2 linked regions of the Homo sapiens genome follow. Each later gene encodes a partner of the first gene's protein in a complex. Each region holds a gene or a part of one and is shown on either strand. Other genes may lie near its edges. A codon is read from its position in the direction of its gene.

Region 1 (7,022 bases):
CCTCTTTCTGCGGCTCAGGTGAGAAGACCCCAGCACTGCCTCCTCCTGTCCCCAGGACCTAGAGCAGAAGCAGGGTGGAGAAGTGAGAGGAGCAGCTCTAGGTTGGGGTGGGGGTTGCTGGGAGAGGGTGGCAGGGGCTGGCTTATCTGAGAGTCTCAGGTCTCTGGGAACCTCTGGCAGAGCCGCTCTGCCCTCTCCCCAGTAGCTGCTGGAATGGTGGGGAGGGACAAAACTTGTCTTATGTCACCCATACCCAGGCCAGGCTGCACCCATTGGGGTGACCAGGCAGATGGAGCCCTGGAGGTGGGGGCTCCATGGAGTGGTGCCCCATTTCAGGTTCGAAGGTACCTGGGCCCCAGCACTACCGCCAAGGATGCAGGTGGCAGAGCCGGGGATGGGGATGGTTGGGATCAGGAGCCGAGCATCAGGGCTGGAGGCTGGGAGCAGGGCTGACCCCTGTGACTGTCCATCCTGGAATGGCAGGGAGTAGAAGGCACCCCCAGGGGAAGCGGGCATCGCCAGGAATCCAGCTGCCCTGGTCCATGGAGCACAGGCTCCATGGAGTGCCAGGCTCTGCCTGGGGCTTATGTCTGGGTGGGCTGCAGGCAGGAAGGGCTCCATGGGGCATTAGGAGAGCCTGGCTGTCACCTCCCTGTGTGACTTGGCCAGTCAGCCCCACCCTGTGCCTCAGTTTCCTCATCTACACATCTGGGCTGGGGTGATGGAGGTGGCCTACCCCTCATCCTCTCTCTCCTATCGCTCCCATCATCCACCCGCCCTGCTGCACCAGGAGCATCCGGTGCCTGCGAAACATCATCCACTGGAACCTCATCTCCGCCTTCATCCTGCGCAACGCCACCTGGTTCGTGGTCCAGCTAACCATGAGCCCCGAGGTCCACCAGAGCAACGTGGTACGTCCTGGCAGGGGAGCGGGGAGCAGGTCAGGCCAAACCCAGGTCAGAGGAGGGGCCCGCCTGCCCTGCAGAGGAGGAGCCCACAGAACAGGAGTGGGATCCCAGGGTATGCCCTGTCCTGCCCTGGGGAGGCCCAGGCCCAGGGTTTGGTGCCTCCCCTGCCCCCCATCATCATCTCTGGTTGGGGGTGGGGTGGCAGGGCTGGTGCAGGTTGGTGACAGCCGCCTACAACTACTTCCATGTGACCAACTTCTTCTGGATGTTCGGCGAGGGCTGCTACCTGCACACAGCCATCGTGCTCACCTACTCCACTGACCGGCTGCGCAAATGGATGTTCATCTGCATTGGCTGGGGTGAGCTGGGCAGCCACCTCCGCAGCCTGGGCAGTGGCGGCCGCCGGGCTGCCCTCTCCTCCAGACTCAGGCCAGCGGGCTGGGGGGCCTGAGGGATGGAGGTCGGGTTGGGGCGGTAAGGTGTGCACGATAGCCCTCTGCTCCTCTTGGGGGTGGGCGGCAGTAGAAGCACCTTGAAGGAGGTGTGTGAGTTTGAGATCCACCCTGAGTAACCCCAGACCCCCTGGAGCCTGGGCTGCACTGGGGTTCTCCAGGCCCACATCCTCCAGCCCCCGCTGAGGGCTCTGTGACAGCCCATCTCTCCCCCAGGTGTGCCCTTCCCCATCATTGTGGCCTGGGCCATTGGGAAGCTGTACTACGACAATGAGAAGTAAGTCATCTCCTTTCCCTTCCTGACCCCAAGGTTTAGGCTCCCAGCCCAGCTTGGTGACACTCCCCACGGGCATTGGCCATGCTGGCTTTTTCCCCTCAGGACCATGGTTTCTGCATCTATAAAGGGAGAGATCTGGGGGCTGGACTCATTCAGAGGGTCCCTGCCTGTGCTCTGCCTGGGTGGGGCTGGACAAGCAGGACCCAGCCTCCTTTATCTGCCTTGAGCTTACACAGGAAGCAGCCTGGAGCCAGACTGCCCAGGTTCAAATAGCTGTGTGACCTTGGACAGATTACTGCAGTGTGCCTCAGTTTCCTCATCTGTAAAATGGACATGCTACTGCCTCAAAGGGCTGTTGTGGGGTGATATGAGTCCATCTATATTAAGCATTTACAATAGCTCCTGGCACATAGAGTAAATGCTATATAAATGTGTTCTATTAATATTAAGACATCTTAATAAAAGAGTCCATGAATTTAATAGAAGTGGACCTAGATGATCTCAGAGGCTTCTTCCAGCTCTGAAGTTCTTTGGTTCCTTATGAAATGGACTCAGATGTTTCCAATCGTGCCTGGAAACTTGATTTCTGCTGCAGTGGAGCTCAACTTTGGCTCACATTAGAATCACCTGGAATGCTTGGAAAAGTACCAATGCCCAGGCTTCACCCTCAGAGAATCAGGCGCAATTGGTCTGGGGTGTGGCCTGGCACCCAGAAGTCTTGAAAACTGCCCAGGTGATTCTAATGTGCAGCTCAGATTGAGAACCACTGAGAGAGAGCGGGGCAGAAAAGGTGGACATGGATGGCAGGGGAGCCCCAGGACCTTCTTTGCCAAACAAGTGTTCCCGGGAACCTATCTGACTGACGGACCTGGCGTCCAAGTGGCCTCCACCACAGTGACAAGCCCTCTCCTCCCCCATGGAGGGGAGGGGGCCTGCACGGCTTCATTGGGCTGAAAGAGGAGCCTGGAAGATTATCTTGCGTGTTTATGTGGTTGACTCCCTCCTGACTCCCTCCTGACTCAGGCTGGCTGAGGCCTTGGGAAGCCGAGGCAGGCGGATCACTTGAGGTCAGGAGTTTGAGACCAGCCTGGCTAACATGGTGAAACCCCGTATCTACTAAAAAAAAAACAAAAAAACAAAAATTAGCTGGGTGTGGTGGTGCGCACCTGTAGTCCAGCTACTCGGGAAGGCTGAGGCAGGAGAATCTCTTGAACCCAGGAGGCAGAGGTTGCAGTGAGCCAAGATCGTGCCACTGCACTCCAGCCTGGGCAACAGAGTGAGACTCCATGAGTCTCAAAAAACAAAGCAAAACAAAAACTGTTTGGGCTAAAGGAGAAAGTGAGTCTGAGCGGCTCTGAAGCTCCACCTGGTGGTGAGAATTCAACACTGCAACAGAGAGGATCTGGGTGTGAGAAACCAGAAACGAACTTGCAGACCAGAGGCCCGAGGACTGGACCCGGCCCTCAGAAGCTGTGTGTGGCCAGCATGGTGTTTTCTGAAAACTCGATTTTGTAGCCAACCTTTAAAAAATCCAAAGGTTTCATTTACAAATCTCAATTTCTGGCTTATGAGATCTAGCCACTGGGGGTCTTCATACCCACGAGGACATAAGGGCTTCCAGTTTGTCTGGTCCCCACCCACTCCCCAGGCCTCCCTGGAGCTTGCTGGAGGGACACTCGGGAAAATGCAAAGCAATTACCTCCTGCAGCAGGTAGAACCTGTGCAAGTATTCCTCTCAAGGTTGTTCAGGCTGTGACTGGACAGATTCAGGCTGAGATTGCGAACTGCTGGGTGCCCACTGGGTGACAGGTGTGGTGCCACTCCCACCAGCAGCCCCCCAGAGGGCATGCTGGGCCTCAGCCACTGCCAGGGGACTGTGAGGAGGAGCCGAGGATGCAGCCTCGTGTTGGGCCCATGCCCGTTCCCAGCCACTCAGTCTTTCCCACTGTCTACCTCCTGCCCCGGTGCTTGCTTCCAACTTTGCATCTCATCACAGAGGATGCTGTCCGTTCTGCAGATGGGACAATTGAGGCATGGCAGTGGGATCAAGTGACTTGACCTTCTGCCAGGGTTGGAATTGGGACATCTACCTCTTGGCCTCCAGCCCCAGTCCTGTCCTGGCCAAGCACTGTCCCTCCCCATGCCATCGAGGTGGACGCAGATGACCCTTCCTCCCCTTTCCTCTGTGGCCTTCTAGGTGCTGGTTTGGCAAAAGGCCTGGGGTGTACACCGACTACATCTACCAGGGCCCCATGATCCTGGTCCTGCTGGTAAGAACCTGGGTAGGGGCAGGAGACAGGGCCCAGTGGGGAGGGGCAATCAGTGCCAACCGTGGACAGAAAGGACTCCTCTACCTAGAGGTGGGGGCCACCCAAAGAGGGGGCATGGGTCAGAGATGTGCAGGTGCTCATGAGGAGGAGGGAGAACAGCAGGGGCACTGAGGCCAGAGCTGAGAAGCCTGGGTCCCAAGCCTCTTGCACACTCCGGCCCGCTGGTGTGCTCAAATTGCAGATCAATTTCATCTTCCTTTTCAACATCGTCCGCATCCTCATGACCAAGCTCCGGGCATCCACCACGTCTGAGACCATTCAGTACAGGTAACCGGGTACCACCTTCCTCAGGCCTCCCCCTGATGAAACCCCTGCTCCCCATGCCTCTCACGTGCCAGAGACCTGCCACTCCCTCCCCCGACCTGGCCCTCTTTGCCGAGCCAGCGGGCAGCCCGTCCTGGGGTGGGCTGTGACTCCGAGCCTCCCCACCCGCCCCACCCCAGGAAGGCTGTGAAAGCCACTCTGGTGCTGCTGCCCCTCCTGGGCATCACCTACATGCTGTTCTTCGTCAATCCCGGGGAGGATGAGGTCTCCCGGGTCGTCTTCATCTACTTCAACTCCTTCCTGGAATCCTTCCAGGTACAGCCCTGGAGGGACACATCAGCACCTCCTTGGGTGGGGATTCTGCCAAGCAGAGGCCTGGAGGGCAGGAGGCCAGGGAGAAGCAAGGGGCAGCCCAGAGGCTGGGTGGGCAACACCTGCAGCCGACCTTTGACGCCTCCTCTCTCCTCCCCAGGGCTTCTTTGTGTCTGTGTTCTACTGTTTCCTCAATAGTGAGGTGAGGACCCGGGGGCCCTGCAGCGGGGTTCAGGGCTGTGAGGCCTGTTGGGACTGGCGATTGTCTAGAGCCTTCTCCTCCCCTCCCAGGGCTGCCTCTCTCCCTCCCTGCTCCTAGGTCCCTAGGGGTATGCTGCTGGGAGCCCCAGGGTGGCCCCTCCCACCTGTCCACTCCCACAGTGACAGCCCCCTCCTTTGCTCTCAGAGGCCGCTGGCACCAGGCTGGAAGCCAGAGCTCCAGTATCTTTGATGAGCCTGTGAAAACCAGGAAGGGCTGAGCCCTGGGCAGGGGATACATGTGGGTTGAGGGCAGGGAGCCTTCATGGCAAAGGGCATATGGTGCCTTCGTGTGGGTTAGAAAAGGGTGCCCCTTCCCCAGGACATTTGAGAAACCTGTTCCGACAAATATGCAAAGCAGTCGTGTTAAGGCTGTGAGTGTCATCCCCTACTGAGGACTTCCATGTACTCAGCTGACCTGCACAGCCGCTTACCTGCACAGCTGCTCGTGGCGGCCCAGGGGAGGGAGGGGGTCCTGAGCCACAGGCTCAGATGTCGTGCTCCTCCCTGTGCCCACAGGTCCGTTCTGCCATCCGGAAGAGGTGGCACCGGTGGCAGGACAAGCACTCGATCCGTGCCCGAGTGGCCCGTGCCATGTCCATCCCCACCTCCCCAACCCGTGTCAGCTTTCACAGCATCAAGCAGTCCACAGCAGTCTGAGCTGGCAGGTCATGGAGCAGCCCCCAAAGAGCTGTGGCTGGGGGGATGACGGCCAGGCTCCCTGACCACCCTGCCTGTGGAGGTGACCTGTTAGGTCTCATGCCCACTCCCCCAGGAGCAGCTGGCACTGACAGCCTGGGGGGGCCGCTCTCCCCCTGCAGCCGTGCAGGACTCTAGCTCATGAGTGGAAAGTCACCTACAGGACTGGGCCGGGCCCAGGGCCTCTGGCTTCCCTGCCCAATCCTCCCTGGAGAAGGGACATGGGAATGAATTGAAATGGGGCGCTGGACACCTACAGCAGCACGCATGTCCCTCCAAGGCTGTCTTCTCCCAGAGCACAAGAAGGCCAGCCCACTGGGCCCTGGGGCTGCCCTCGGCAACCGTGGGGAGGCCATTTGCTGCCCTGGGGCATCATGGGCAACTCGTGACAGCCTCTGACTCACCACGATGACGCCTCTGGACCTCGGTGATGCCTTCCGACACCACTGGGAACCAAGGGCCCTCACTCAGGAACCCTGGAGACAGAAGTCAGGTGTCATCATCAGACTTGCGGCCACAGCACTAGAGTCACCCCCCCAGGCCTCCAGAACCTTACTGGCACTGTGGCACTGCCACCAGCAATGCCCTGCCTTGCTGCCTTCACCCTGAACATTTAGTACCCTGCAGGCCAGGCCAGCTTCCCCTCACTTAACCACCCCATACCAGTCACCTCCTGCTCCTTTTCCTCTTTTGTGAGAAGATGGGGGCTGGAGGGGGCAGAGTGGCCTGTGAGCAAGAGCCAGGGGTGTCCCAGTCCCAGCCTCTGGGGCAGAGCTTGTAGCCCTGGATGGCCTCTGGGGCAGGACCACTAGCTAAGCAAGCCAGGAGAAGACCCCTGCCCAAGTGGCTCTTGGGACAACGTGCTGCTTACACTCCAGGTGTGGACCGGCCGCAGCCCCCACTGACCTGCCCATGTCCAGAGGGACTGGACAGCCAGGGCAGGGCTTTGGGGGGCACTAGAAGATGAGGGTGTCGGCTGTGAGGCGGGTGGCTGGTATAAATAATATTTATCTTTTCAACCAGCATTTGTGAAGGCCTGGACTCCACAGGGGGCTGGATGGAGAGGGTGTCTCACAGAGGTGGGGGCTGCTTCCCAGCTTTCAGGGGCTGCTGTGTTGCTGAGAAACCTGACCCCACTCTCACCCCGGCAAGGATGGTGCCAGGAGAGCCCCTGAGGGCCGGGAGAGGGGTGAGGGCAGGAGGGAGGGCTTCGAGGAACAGGTGGGTCTGGCCAGGGCCCCCTTAGTTAGGGACAGCTTGTTGTGAGGAGGTGAATTAGAGGGAGAGGAGGGCCACGGTTAGGGATGCAGAGGAGGGACACCATGGGTCAGGGGAAGGAACAAAGGAGACGGGAGTGTGTCCCAGCCCCAGGCAGGAGCTGTGCTGATTGGTGGGAAGCAGAATTAGGATGCTGGGCCACTGGACAGGCTGTGAATGCAGCTGTCTCCACTAGGGCCGCCACAAGAAGCCATCCCTGAGACCCTGAGGTTTCTTGTGCAAACTCGAGGGAAGGGGAGTACAG
Region 2 (6,342 bases), on another chromosome or scaffold:
CGACCCTGCTCGAGAGCCCGCGCTAGAGTCGGGGAGGATCTGCGCAGAGACCGCAGCATCACCCAAATCGGCGCCGGCCCCGGGAGGATCTCAATAAAGAACTCGAGCGTCCCAGACCCGTATCTCCTTTCGCTGCCCAACCCCGCAGCCTGGGCTTCGAAGGCGACCCGCCCACCATCCTGCCCTTCCCAGAACCTGAGACCGTCTGGGGGGCGGAAGCCAAATGAACCCCTATTGGGCACCTCTGTGATGCCAGGAGCGAACTGGTGAGCCCAGCGCCCTGGGAAGAGGGCCGAGGGCGGGGCGGTGGTGCCGGGACCTCTGAGGTCCTGGGGATTTGGGGACCCTTGGGGTCCACATGCACCTGGCTGACCTGGCTGAAAGCCGCTGTCTCGGAGCCCCCCACAGCATTTTGTTCCCCTCCCGCTGGCCCGGGGGCCCCACCTTCCCACGGGTTCCCACGCTGCTGTGACTGCCCTGCCTCTACGACAAAAGCCAACGGGTCTTCAGTACTTTTATTAAAAAATAGTCACGCAGACAGTGCCCTGGTGGCTCTGCCCCGCATCCCAACTCTGGGGTGGGGGAAAGGGGTCAACGTTTTCGCAGCCCCAAACCGGGCCATCACTTGCCCACCGAGTCGAATATGATGCGGTTCTGCTCGGCGCGCTCCCGCTGGCTCTGCGTCCGCGCCAGCTCCAGCAGGGTCCGCAGCAGGTGAAAGGTGAGGTCAATGGACAGAGAAGGGTTGTCCCGCCGCGGCCGCTCGCCTGCCGTCCCGAGTCCCAATCGGCCGGGCCCCGCGCGGCGCGGGAAGCGCTCCGCCAGCAGCAAGAGGAGCGCGCGGGCCCCGCCACCCTGGTTCCGTGCCCCGGGGCTCCAGCGCAGACTCGGGTCCTGGACCCCGGCCGCCTCGGGGCTCCTCTGGCTGCTCCCAGGGCACAGCTGTACCAGGAGCAGCAGCGCGGCCAGCAGCGCTGCGCGTCCCGCCTGCCTCATGGTGCCGCCGGCCCTGGACACACAGGGGCAGCGCAGGGTGAGGTGCGCCTGGGACAGCTGCAGGCCGCCGCTCCCCTCCCCGCGCTCGCCCGGCGACCCCTCCGGCCGCCGCCCAATGCCCGCAGCCTGCCCTCCAGCCCCAGCCACTGCGCCAGTGCTGTTCCATCCCTTCCACCCAGCCTCCCTCCCCGGAGGAGCGTGGTGGCTGAGCTGAGCGGAGTCCTGGTGCAGGGGGAGGCTGGGCGGACGCTCTGAGCCACTCACAGGTTGTCGGCGAGCGTCTGTACGGTCCAAGATTGAGCTCCAGTCTCTGTCCCTCGGGGCAGGCTGAAGACGCCTTGGGGAACACAGGGTCTGTCCCGGGGCTGTCGCCAGCCTTATATAGTGCCAGGACAGCTCCGACTGACGTCAGCGAAGAACATGCACTGATTGTAGAAGCAATGACAGCCACAGCTTCGAGTCTGACGGCTGGCGGGCCCCCGGAGGGGCGCACCTCCCTACACCAGCCTTCGTGCCCCTGGGGCTAGCGCTGGAAGCAGCACTGGACGCAGGAAAGCGAGAAGCCGGCTGGGGCGTAAAGACTGCTCTGGGACCCACGGGAGTCCCTCGCCCCGCTTAGAACAGCCAGCAATGACTAGGGCCGTCCCCAGACCAGACTAGTCCGGGTCGCGTGTTCTGACACACGAAAGGGAGGCGGGACCGTGAGGCTGTCCATGGTGCTGACCCCGTCCTCTGCCTCTAGAAGTGGCCAGAAATGTGAGAACGCTGTGCCGCTGGAACCCACTGCCTCCCTGCAGCTATCAGTTCTGCAAATGCAGGCATCAGGAGTCCACCGCTGGCACTCAGCCAACACAGTGGGACCCACTGAGAGGCAGTCTGCCACAACCAAAGTCTCCCAGCATTCTTATCTTTTTCCAGCCCCAGGATCCAAATTGTAGGGCTGTCTGACAGGCACCATGTAACAGAGGGTCTCTAGCATCCGAGTGCTTTCAGACCACAAATGGCTGGCCCATCTGCTTTTGAGTTTGCCAAAGTAGTTTAGCAAAGTTCAGTTTCTCTCCTGGGAATCATAGCAGCAGTGTAACTCTGCCCATGAGCAGCAAAGAAATATGGGTTCAAGTTTCTGCTAACTCCTGGTGTGGACAGGTCACCTCCCTCCTACCAACCTCAGGGTCCTCATTTGTAAGACTGGGCTTGGCCAGGCGCGGTGGCTCACGCCTGTAATCCCAACACTTTGGGAGGCCGAGGCAGGCGGATCACGAGGTCAGTAGTTTGAAACCAGCCTGGCCAATATGGCGAAACCCCATCTCTACTAAAAATACAAAAATTAGCCGGGCGTGGCGGTATGCGCCTGTGGTCCCAGCTACTCAGGAGGCTGAGGCAGGAGAACTGCTTGAACCCAGGAGGCGGAAGCTGCAGTGAGGCAAGATCGCGCCACTGCACTCCAGCCTGGGAGACAGAGCAAGACCCTGTCTCAAAAAAAAAAAAAAAAAAAAAAAAAAAAATTGGGCTTGGTGGTCTCTTGGCTTCTTTCCAGCTCTAGAAATGACTCCCCAATAGTTTTCTGCTTAAAAACTTACTCATTACCACTGCAGATTCCGGATTACATATTTAATAACATATTTACTGAGGCACCATATAAAGGGTTCCGGGAGTCTCTAAAGAGCTGGAGCTACAAGAAGCCTAGGCAGGGTTAGAGTAACAAATGTGTCTATGAAGAGTGGGGATGAGTGGCATTTGCTGGGATATGGGTGTAAAGTTGATAAGGTCATGAAGGTTCAACAGATATTTATGGAGTGCCTAGTATGTGGTGGGAATAAGACTATTATCAAGGGCTCTAAAGCAGTCAGTGTACATTTTAGAGTGAAGAGGGGCATTGCAGGGTGCTAGTCCTCTTAAGCTCTGACCGGCAACCCAACCCCGTGGAAACTGGTATGCCCACTTTGAGGAGGTTGTCTGACCGTTCCAGGGTCAAGCTGCATCACTGCAAGGTGGAAACGATGGAGTGAGGCAGGCTTAGAGCCGATGTGCCTTCCAGGACAGGTAGGAGTTCCAGATAACAGCAACACATTGGACAACGGCCAACCTAAGGAACAGGAATAACACAATGAAGAGGAGGAAGGCTAAGCAGTGAGCAAGGGCTGGAGATGGGAGCATGAAATGGCAAAGGAGGGATCATGACAAAGGATTGGCAGGTTTAGGTCTCTTTCCTTCAGCACCTTTTTTTTGAGATGGAGTCTCCTCTGTTGCCCAGGCTGGAGTGCAGTAGCACAATCTTGGCTCACTGCCTCCCGGGTTCAATCAATTCTCGTGCCTCAGCCTCCCAAGTAGCTGGGACTACAGGTGTGCTCCACCACACCTGGCTAATTTTTGTATTTTTAGGAGAGACAGGGTTTCACCATGTTGGCCAGGCTGGTCTCGAACTCCTGACCTCAAGTGAGCCACCCACCTCGGCCTCCCAAAGTGCTGGGATTACAGGTGTGAGCCACGACACCCAGCCCTTTCAGCACCCTATGAAGGGCCTGTGTGGCTTGCACTAAAGGACAACTGGCTCAAATTCTAGTGCCATCCCAGAGCTCTGTTTCCTGGCTGAGAGCCTCAAAGGCTAAATATTCAGCGGCTCTCTTGCCATGCATAGCTCTGTTAATCACAGAAAGGGCCCCTATCTGGGCCCCTTCTAAGTTCATTGATCTGTCTTGTACCAGCTGAGATTTCATCTTCCGAAATGTACGGACTATCATATAAAGTAGCATCTTTCTGTTTTAAATTAACCTTGCTCTGGTTTCAAAGAGTGTTGCAAAGGACCCTAATGTTTAGGATTTGGTTCATAAGTCTGTATTCCTTTTTTGTTTTTTCGGGTTTTTTTTGAGACGGAGTCTCGCTCTGTTGCCCAGGCTGGAGTGCGGTGGCAAGATCTTGGCTCACTGCAACCTCCGCCTCCCAGGTTCAAGCGATTCTCCTCCCTCAGCCTCCCGAGTAGCTGGGACTACAGGCACCTGCCACCACACCCAGCTAATTTTTGTATTTTTAGTAGAGACAGGGTTTCAACATATTGGCCAGGCTGGTCTCGAATTCCTGACCTTGTGATCCACCTGCCTCAGCCTCCCAAAGTGTTGGGATTACAGGCGTGAGCCACTGTGTCCAGCCTTTTTTTTTTTTTTTTTTTTTTTTTTTTTTGGAGACAGGGTCGTCTCACTCTGTCACCAGGCTGAAATGCAGTGGCACAATCTCAGTTCACAGCAACCTCCATCTCACAGGCTCAAGTGATCCTCCCACCTCAGCCTCCCGAGTAGCTGGGACTACGGGCACATGTTACCATGTGACTGGCTAATTTTTTGTATTTTCTGTAGAGATGAGGTCTCACTATATTGCCCAGGCTGGTGTGAAACTCCTGGACTCAAGCAAACCTCTTGCCTCAGCCTCCCAAAGTGCTAGAATTACAGGTGTGAGCCACCGTGCCCAGCCAGTCTGTATTCGTTTTAGCTATGCTACTCATGTACATTTTGGCCCTGTTCCCTCTGAAGCGTTCCATATTTTCCCCTGTTCCCACGATCCTTCACCTTCAAGCATTTGAACCACACATCTTCAGTGCCACTATCTTTTTGGGTGCAGTTCAGCAACTGTCTTTATTGTGAGTGTCTGACCAGGCTCCTACTTGGCCTTCTGGTCTACCTCTCTGTCTAACCTAGGCTGCAGCACCCCAGCCACTGTCCCTCCAGATATGCCATCAAAGACGGAGCTCAGGTGGGATGGAGACAAGGGTGGTAGAAGCAGGATCCTCCCTAGGGAGATGAAGAAGGTCAGTGGGCAGACACTCTGGGACAGTTTCCGGAAATGGCAAGACATTCTGAATAACACGCTTGGGAATCTGAGGAACTCTGATCACGGCTCAGTGTTCCGTTTGGGGGTCTAAGGTAGCTCAAGGTTGAAATGAGAATCATTTTGTCTCCAACTGTTGGTAACGTGGGTCTTCCTTGATGGGTGGGGTAGGGGTGCAACATACCTGTAATGAAGGGGGACCAGGTAGAAGTTGGCTAACTGCACAGCAGGCCATAGCTGCAAGAGAAAATGTAAAGGTTGGATGGCTGCCCCACCACCTGACCCCAGACTCACTGTCTTGCCTGGCCCTACCCCAACTTCTGCACACAAGAAAAAGGTGAACAGTTGGGTGATGGCTTCCCTATTTATGGTGCCCATCCTGGGAATGAAAGAGTAATCCCAACGGAAGGGTTTCCCATGTCAGGAGGACCCCCCAATCCCAGGACAGTTCTAGACTTAAGGAAGCAGGAGAACAAGCAGTTGAGGTGTCAGCTCTTACATAGTAGTTGGTGATAAGGGCATCAGGATAATCCTGGGGAGACAGAGAAGGAACAAATTAACACTTGCGCCTCCAAGCAGCTCCCACTTCCCAGTATGAATGTCACACACAGACTTGGGTTCAAAGAGCACATTCCTGCACCATAACCCTCAGCTCCTCTCCTCCATGGCCTGGGGCCCTACCTGCACTTACCCCCTTTTTTATCCCTGTAAAACCTGTCTTCTTCCCCTGGGCTGTCAGCCCGCCAGCCAGAGACATTCTCCACACCTGCCCAGCTCACCCGCTGTAGTTTGGCCCAGTTGTCCTGGGCTGACAGTCCATTAAGTGCCCCTACCAGTGGGAGAAAGCAGCCTAGAAAACACGGGGCAAAGCCCCCCTAGGGAAGAGAAATTAAAGTCCTATGAGTGCTGAAATCCCCACCTACCCCCAACACAGCTCACCCTCCCCACTCTGTTCTCCTGCTCACCTGATCCAACAACATCTTCTTCAGTGCATCCACTTTGGTGGTGCCAGGGATGAACCGATCCAAAACCTTGTACCAGCCTCCTACCACAGGGCCCTGGAAGTAAACCCCAGATAGCAGCAGGCTGCAGTGAGGGAGCCCTAGGCCTCTACCTCACTAAGCTCCCTGCCCCAAGTATCAGAATAGGGGAAGTGGACACTAAGAAAAAAGAGGGCGGCAGGTTGGCTTAGGTGTGAGAGTCCAAGGGAAGCCAAAGGATGGCAAAGAACTAAGACCACTGTTGAGTCCACTGAAGCCCTGTTGAGGGGAGAACTTACCACAAAGCCACAGCCCAGGGACACCATGGTCAGAGTCCGGCCTCTCTGGTGTTCCTGCAGACCCCGCCTCTCCACCAGCTGCTGTGAGATAATGTCACCCAGGCCCATCAGGGACCCTATGCAGGGTACACAGGTGTTGTCAGGACATCTCCTGGGATGGGCTGCCATTCCAAGGAGGGAGGGACATCTGCTGACCTCCACTGAGGCTCTGGTACTCTGAACCCCAGGGCTTCATTGTGGAAACAAAT

Evidence for each region. The genes of interacting proteins can lie anywhere in the genome.
Region 2: the proteins of CRHR1 (region 1) and UCN are in contact, whole or in part, in a cryo-EM structure (PDB 6PB0), measured with the Homo sapiens proteins. Residues at the interface, in NP_004373.2 of Homo sapiens: Leu106, Asn107, Glu109, Lys113, His117, Val120, Asn123, Trp169 (codon at 861), Val172 (codon at 870), Gln173 (codon at 873), Ser177 (codon at 885), Pro178 (codon at 888), His181 (codon at 897), Gln182 (codon at 900), Thr192 (codon at 1,132), Tyr195 (codon at 1,141), Asn196 (codon at 1,144), His199 (codon at 1,153), Phe203 (codon at 1,165), Phe260 (codon at 3,842), Gly261 (codon at 3,845), Lys262 (codon at 3,848), Pro264 (codon at 3,854), Tyr270 (codon at 3,872), Tyr272 (codon at 3,878), Gln273 (codon at 3,881), Met276 (codon at 3,890), Ile277 (codon at 3,893), Tyr327 (codon at 4,460), Phe330 (codon at 4,469); in NP_003344.1 of Homo sapiens: Asn84 (codon at 747), Pro85 (codon at 744), Ser86 (codon at 741), Leu87 (codon at 738), Ser88 (codon at 735), Ile89 (codon at 732), Asp90 (codon at 729), Leu91 (codon at 726), Thr92 (codon at 723), Phe93 (codon at 720), His94 (codon at 717), Leu95 (codon at 714), Leu96 (codon at 711), Arg97 (codon at 708), Leu99 (codon at 702), Leu100 (codon at 699), Glu101 (codon at 696), Leu102 (codon at 693), Ala103 (codon at 690), Arg104 (codon at 687), Thr105 (codon at 684), Gln106 (codon at 681), Gln108 (codon at 675), Arg109 (codon at 672).

What each region holds. Positions count from the first base shown.
Region 1 is NC_000017.11:45,829,304-45,836,325, forward strand, and holds the end of CRHR1 (corticotropin-releasing factor receptor 1 isoform 2 precursor), read left to right. Parts: coding exon 1-18; intron 19-257; coding exon of another isoform or gene 258-344; intron 345-790; coding exon 791-911; intron 912-1,113; coding exon 1,114-1,267; intron 1,268-1,576; coding exon 1,577-1,637; intron 1,638-3,834; coding exon 3,835-3,907; intron 3,908-4,148; coding exon 4,149-4,234; intron 4,235-4,410; coding exon 4,411-4,546; intron 4,547-4,703; coding exon 4,704-4,745; intron 4,746-5,320; coding exon 5,321-5,461; coding exon of another isoform or gene 5,462-5,510; 3' UTR 5,511-6,525; downstream 6,526-7,022. Other genes in the region: LINC02210-CRHR1 (CRHR1-IT1-CRHR1 protein), read left to right, coding at 1-18, 791-911, 1,114-1,267, 1,577-1,637, 3,835-3,907, 4,149-4,234, 4,704-4,745, 5,321-5,510.
Region 2 is NC_000002.12:27,306,900-27,313,241, forward strand, and holds UCN (urocortin preproprotein), read right to left. Parts: upstream 1,547-6,342; 5' UTR 1,261-1,546; intron 1,010-1,260; 5' UTR 997-1,009; coding exon 622-996; 3' UTR 501-621; downstream 1-500. Other genes in the region: mitochondrial inner membrane protein Mpv17, read right to left, coding at 3,013-3,082, 5,000-5,052, 5,315-5,347, 5,595-5,690, 5,781-5,873, 6,095-6,210. UniProt on the Homo sapiens protein: Acts in vitro to stimulate the secretion of adrenocorticotropic hormone (ACTH). Binds with high affinity to CRF receptor types 1, 2-alpha, and 2-beta. Plays a role in the establishment of normal hearing thresholds.